2 separate regions of the Homo sapiens genome follow, and region 1 is linked to region 2. Evidence: fine-mapped expression QTL. A gene starts in region 2. The other region holds a variant in brackets. All regions are shown on one strand. Distances are between the middles of the regions. Region 1 overlaps CYRIA (CYFIP related Rac1 interactor A). Region 2 holds the start of CYRIA (CYFIP related Rac1 interactor A).

The links.
Region 1: its variant is fine-mapped to the expression of CYRIA in whole blood (TOPMed, PIP 0.92).

What each region holds. Positions count from the first base shown.
Region 1 is chr2:16,633,929-16,636,834 of GRCh38, forward strand. The region is part of intron 1 of CYRIA (CYFIP related Rac1 interactor A); the gene reads right to left. Among named protein-coding and RNA genes, the nearest start is that of CYRIA, 30 kb to the right of the region's middle. The variant C/T (reference allele first, on the strand shown) is at 1,388.
Region 2 is chr2:16,664,486-16,667,391 of GRCh38, forward strand. CYRIA (CYFIP related Rac1 interactor A) reads right to left here and starts at 1,349. Exons shown (of 12, transcript NM_030797.4): 1 at 1,295-1,349. RefSeq lists silencers at 1,266-1,315, 1,386-1,555.

The DNA of each region.
Region 1 (2,906 bases), 31 kb before region 2:
ATAATGAGGTGATATCAAAGGCAGGAGGAGAACCTGGATCGCTGAATAACTAGCTGAGGGTTCTTCCCTCAGTCCCAGGTGCTTCCCAGGCTAACGTTGGACCACAGACAGAATGACTAGGAGCACATGACACTGAGTCATGGTCGAGGTGAAAAAGTCAAGACCAACTAAGTATTTAGGCTTGATAAGCTTACACTGTTGACAGCCAGCCGATCCACTAAGCAACCAAGTGGGCAGCAGGCATCTGAGACTCAGGCAGAGGTTCATCTACTCTTTACACCAACACTAGGAAGGGGATCACTATTTCTCCTTTTGCAGGTGTGGAAAATGAGGCTCCCAGTGGTCACAGCTGCTATCTGGACTAAAACACCAGCCACACCCCTTCTCTTATATTCCAGAATGGTAAAATCCAACAGCCCCCCACTGTCACCACTTTGATGCCTCCCAAGCATCTTACAGTAGACACATCTGATGGTAAGTAACAGCATCTAGTCCCTGCCCAAGAGACCATTCTGTCCAGGACCCCCTTCTGGGGAACTTCATTTCTGCTCTAAGACCAGAGGTATCCCATGACTTTTCTAATTCCTTCAATGGAAAGACTGTGAAAAGAAACTTTCATTTAACAGAAGAGGGGGATAACTCCACTCTAACTGCTTTATGTTTATCCAGAGAAGTTATCAAAAACTCTTACCAGGTGACTGCTTTCCCCACAGCACATCACAGTGATAAGGGCATGTGTCTGGGGGGTGGCAGAACAAGGTCCAGAGGAGAGCAAGACTAATATGTGATCAGCAGCACACATGGACTTGGGGGCATTCTGAGCTGGCTGGCACCAGCTCACCAGATCCAACTGTACAGATCCCTTCCCAACTTCACATTCAGTGACGCCATGGAAGTAGCTTGAAACCAGCCATGGTGGAAGTATTTACACCATGGAAATTGTCCCACGCTCCCAGCAAGTTTGTTTGGCTTTCGTTTATCCCAGATAATTGGTTATTAAGCATTTAGGAGCAAACCACTGAATGGATCCATAAGATGGACACTGGGTTGGGAAGACAAGACTTAAATTGTAGCTAAAGCTCTACCGCCAACTCACTGTTTGACTTGAGCAAGTTTCTTCCTGGTCCTAAGTTTCCTTAACTGTAAAGGACATAAAGAGCACTTTGGTAAATGTAAAATAGGGAGGAGACATTTGACAATGTCTGCAGACATTTTTGGTTGTCACAACTGAGGTAGATGTGGTGCTACTGGACAGGGATGCTGCCAAGCATCCTATCACGCACAGGAAAGCCCCTCTTCCTCCCTTAACAGAGACCTACTTTTCCCAACATGTTCCTAGTGCCAAGGTTGAGAGATCCTGATGGGGAGATAGTCTCACAGTAGCCCA[C/T]TGAAATACCTTGAACACATCAGCATGCACAAGGAAAATAAAAGGAGTCAGCTTGCAGGAACCCTGGGAGGGCAGTGGTGTAAAACATTGCCACGGATGCTACAGGTTTACAATGCAAGGATGAGGTAGATCTCTTGCCCTAACATGGTACCGGGCACACCATAGGTGCTCAGTAATCATTTGCGGGAAAAGTAAACGTGTCTAGTTGAAATAGCAATGCAGTCTCTCTTTAGCAAGCCTATACTCCAGTGTGTGTGCATCCCCCCACAGTGACACCAGGCAGAAGAATCTGACAAGTGTCTATTCACCTCCTCTCACCTCCTCTGGGAGGGTAGTGAAAAGACACGGTGTGAAGTTCTAGCCCTGGAGACTCAGATTAGACAAATAATCACTAGCCTGGCATCCAGAGCCGCGATGGTCAGAAGAGCAATTTTATTTAAGTCACTTTCTAATAGGAGTTGAAGCGTCTTGAAAAGTGAGGTTTTCAAAGGCTCCTCTGGGGAGGCAATTGTCAAAAACACACAGCAGGCAACCTTGCTTTCGACACATTCAAAGCCACTTTTTAAAGACAATCCTTTTCTTCTCTGTACCACTTGGGATTGAAAATGCATTTAGCACAAACCACCAGAAGCAGAAACAGCGTTGGATAAGAAACGCGACCGACATTGTGGCAAGCACGGGGAACTGCAACAGAATCTGATCAGGCTGGCACCACTCAGACATGCACAAGGAAAGAGGCAATGGCAGGCAGCATATCTACTGTCCCTCAGCCTCTGGGGTCTGGAGTCAGCGAAAGTAGGGGGTGAGGTGTAACCACAGCCGTTGCTGGAAGTCCCTTGCAAGACTCCGGATTCTGAGTTCTCACACTGAGAGTGGCAGCTGATTTCTAAACAAGCAGATGACAGAACACAGGACCTCCCTCTGTGTCTCCCTGAAGATCTGAATCTGACCATAAACCATCCGACTCACAAAGCCCTTTAATTAAAAGCCCAAGGGCCCAGAGCTAATTCGAGATGTGGCAAGACCCAGTGGCTTCTCAAGCACCAGAACTGTGAGCAGATTAATGGGGATAATTTCGCCCTTCCTGGTCTATAAATGACAACTCACTCAGATGCACTGAATGCCAGAGCTGGAAGCCACCTGGGCAACTCTCTGCCCAGCCCCTTGCTTTGTGAATGAGGAGCTCATGGTCCAGGATAGGAGGCCAACTGCCCCAGGCCCGGTCCCGAGTTTCTTACTGACTTTCAGCTAAATGCAGCTTTCTTGGTGTCCAGTGCTGAGTCACCTATCTATTCAGAGAAAATGTTTTTGTTGAGGTCTCTACACTCCCTCTGCAAGGCTTACTCAGAACTCCGGACAAGCTGGTTACAATCCATCTGGGACCTAGGGCCACAGGTTGGAAGTAGGACAACTTCAGGGAAAGAAATTACCCCTGCCTGGGCAACGTAGTAAGATCCTATCTCTCCCCCAACCCCTTGCCAAAAAAAAAAATAAGAAAGAAATACAAAACATTAGCTGG
Region 2 (2,906 bases):
AAACAGCCCCTGCTCTGCCTCCTGTCTCCACTGCAAAGCAAGCCCTCGAACCCCAACCAGAGATCAGTGAAAGCCGACAATGATCCACCCAAAGAACTCTGGTACCCAAGCCCAGACCTGGCTAGCAGCCACTCTCCTCCTGCTGCCCCAGCACAAGTCCCAGCCTTCCAGGGTCCCAGATCAGCATTCTGTGCCCTGGGGACTCGACACTGTGCAGATGGCCCAGGTCCCATCCAGAGGAGATAGTGACTGGTGACAGAGAGGAAAGTTTCTAACAGGGAGAAAAGGAGGGTCACAGAGCTTCAGGGGAGATCAGGGCCCTAAACTCCAGCCCCATGACCCTGTCTTGGGTTCCCTGGGGAGCAGGCGGGTAAACAAGGGTGTGGGAGAGGACATCAGGCCCTGGACACAGAAAGATTGCTCCATCAGTTCTGGACCTGGCACCCCCAAAACAGTGGCTGGGGGAATTCTGGGGATGCGTGGGGAAATAGCTTTGGAGGCCTTAAATGACAAAGATCTTGGCCCTGGTCTCTGGGGACACTGGCTAGCGAGTAGGAGCAGCTTGGAGGAGGACCCAGGGACGGGCTGGCCCATTTTGACAGAGAATGTCTCCTGGCAGACAAGACAGGTGTCTCCACCAAAAAGCATGGCTGGCCTGGGACCAGCATTTTGGGAAGTGGGTCAAATTGTTCCCAAAGCTCAGTATTGGAAAAGTGCCTTTTGCCAAACTGGGGTTCTGGGTTCTGGGGGAGGAGAGAGGGTGACGGCAAGGTGTGCTGGGTCCTAGGCACAGCAGCTTTCTGGCTGGCTAAGAACGTCTGTGGCAGGTGGCAACAGAAGGGTCCAGGTGTGCAGGGGCTGGGGAGGGGGCCATCCCTCCCTTTGGGGCTGTAGAGAGTACCCAGGACCCCGGGGCCTCGGGTGGTGGGAAGGGGAGTGTTAGGGGTCCCCTGCAAGAATGGAGCTTATGATACCTGGGGTGGGGGGTAAGTGAGTGAGGGACGAGGGAGGGTGGTCTGGGAAAGGAACACAATCAGGAGGCAGCCCTCTCAGAAAGAGGGCAACGGGGCACAAAGCCGGACCTCTGTCCGGCGATCGCTAGAGAAGGGCTCCCGGACGGTGTCCTCCGCTCTCCCTCCCTCCCAAAGGCTGCAGGGGCGTCCGGGAGGAGAAGGATGGCAGGGAGGCGCCCGCCCCGCCTCGCGGTGCCCCGCGGTGCCCCGTGCAGGCCGAGCCCCGCGCCCGCAGACCCCCGCCCGCGCCCCTGCCGCGCCCCCAGCCGCGCCGCGCTCACCGAGTCGCCGCCGCCCTGCTCTGCCGCCCGCTCCGCCGCCGCCGAGTACGCCTCTCCCGCGGCCGCCGCAGCCTGCGAGACGGCCTCGGAGCCCCGCCCCGCCCCTCCCCGTCCCTCCCCGCCCCGCCCCGCCCCCAGCCCGGCTCGCGGCAGCCGCCCCGCCCCGGCCCCGGGGGATCCCCACCCGCGCTGTCACCGGCCGCGTCCTCACCCTAGCCTGGACAACCCCATCTCTTTGCCCGGCTCTGCTCTCTGCTCCCAGGAGCTGGTGCGGACCCGCCCCAGCACGGTCGCCCCTGCCCCTTCTCAGCCTTGGCCACTTGGCCTTGCCTTCCCAGAGGAAGCCCGAACCAGACCTTTCTGTTTCTGCACACCAAATTCCTCCACACCCACGGTTGCCCTCCAAGAAAAAGAAATCCCCGCAATCTCTAGACGCATATTCACCTTCAAATTAATGCCCAGCCAAATCATCCCAATCCCTAGGCACACTCCAAATTACTTGAGATTCTGAACCCAGTCTCGCTCCCAGTCCCTTTCTGCCCACCCTATTAACAGATCTCCAGCCTTGGGGCCCGCAGTTATCCGATAGGACCACTGTAAAGTCTTCCCAAAGGCTCAATCCAAAACATGTAATTAACCTTAAAGAGTAAGTCTGCAAAAACACTTAAAAAATTCTATGATGCAAAAAGAAAGTAGTGGGTTACAGCGTCATTGACGTGATCATTGTTCTAAAACATCTGCCATGGAGGCTTTTTGCATTAGAGAGAGGGAGATTCAGGAAACCGGAGAGGACTCAGCAGTGCCAAACAGGTTGTGAGTCAGAGCTCCTGTTGAGGGGAGGGAGAGCTCCTGGGGACCCCGGCTTCGGGTGCTTCCTTTCCCAGTCCATCAGCCAGAACATCATGAAACATGTGTTAAATCCCCATAGTGTGCCAAGGTACGTGCCCGAAGCTGCATGGGTTGGGGCCCTGTGTGGGCTGGGATCAGAGGAGGCGGGAAGCATCAGGAGAAGGTGTTCAGGCCCCTCTCCTTTCTGAGATCCAGGGTGTTTCCCCTGGGAGGACTTGTTGCCCAAGCTTCCTTTGCACTCTGAAAGGCTCTCCTGAACTGCCCACAGAGGCTCTTGGTCTGTTTTTTGGCAAAAATTCACAGAGGGCAGGAAGGCACTGTCTAGTTAGAGTGAAATATTTTCCCACTTGGAAGGGGTCCTTAGGACCAGAAGAAACACTTTCCCGTTCTCTTTTTGAGTTTTCCCCATGCCCTAGACCAGCCTCTGTTGTCAATTCCTGCAAAGGTGTTTTTTTTGTTTTTGTTTTTTGAGACAGAGTCTCACTCTGTAGCTCAGGCTGGAGTGGAGTGGTGTGATCTCGGCTCACTGCAACCTCCATCCCCCGGGGTTCAAGCAATTCTCCTGCCTCAGCCTCCAGAGTAGCTGGGACTACAGGCGCCTGCCACCACATCCGGCTAATTTTTGTATTTTTAGTAGAGACGGGGTTTCACCATCTTGGTCAGGCTAGTCTTGAACTCTTGACCTCGTGATCCACCCACTTTGGCCTCCCAAAGTGCTGGGATTACAAGCGTGAACCACCGCAGCCGTCTGGCAAAGGTGTTT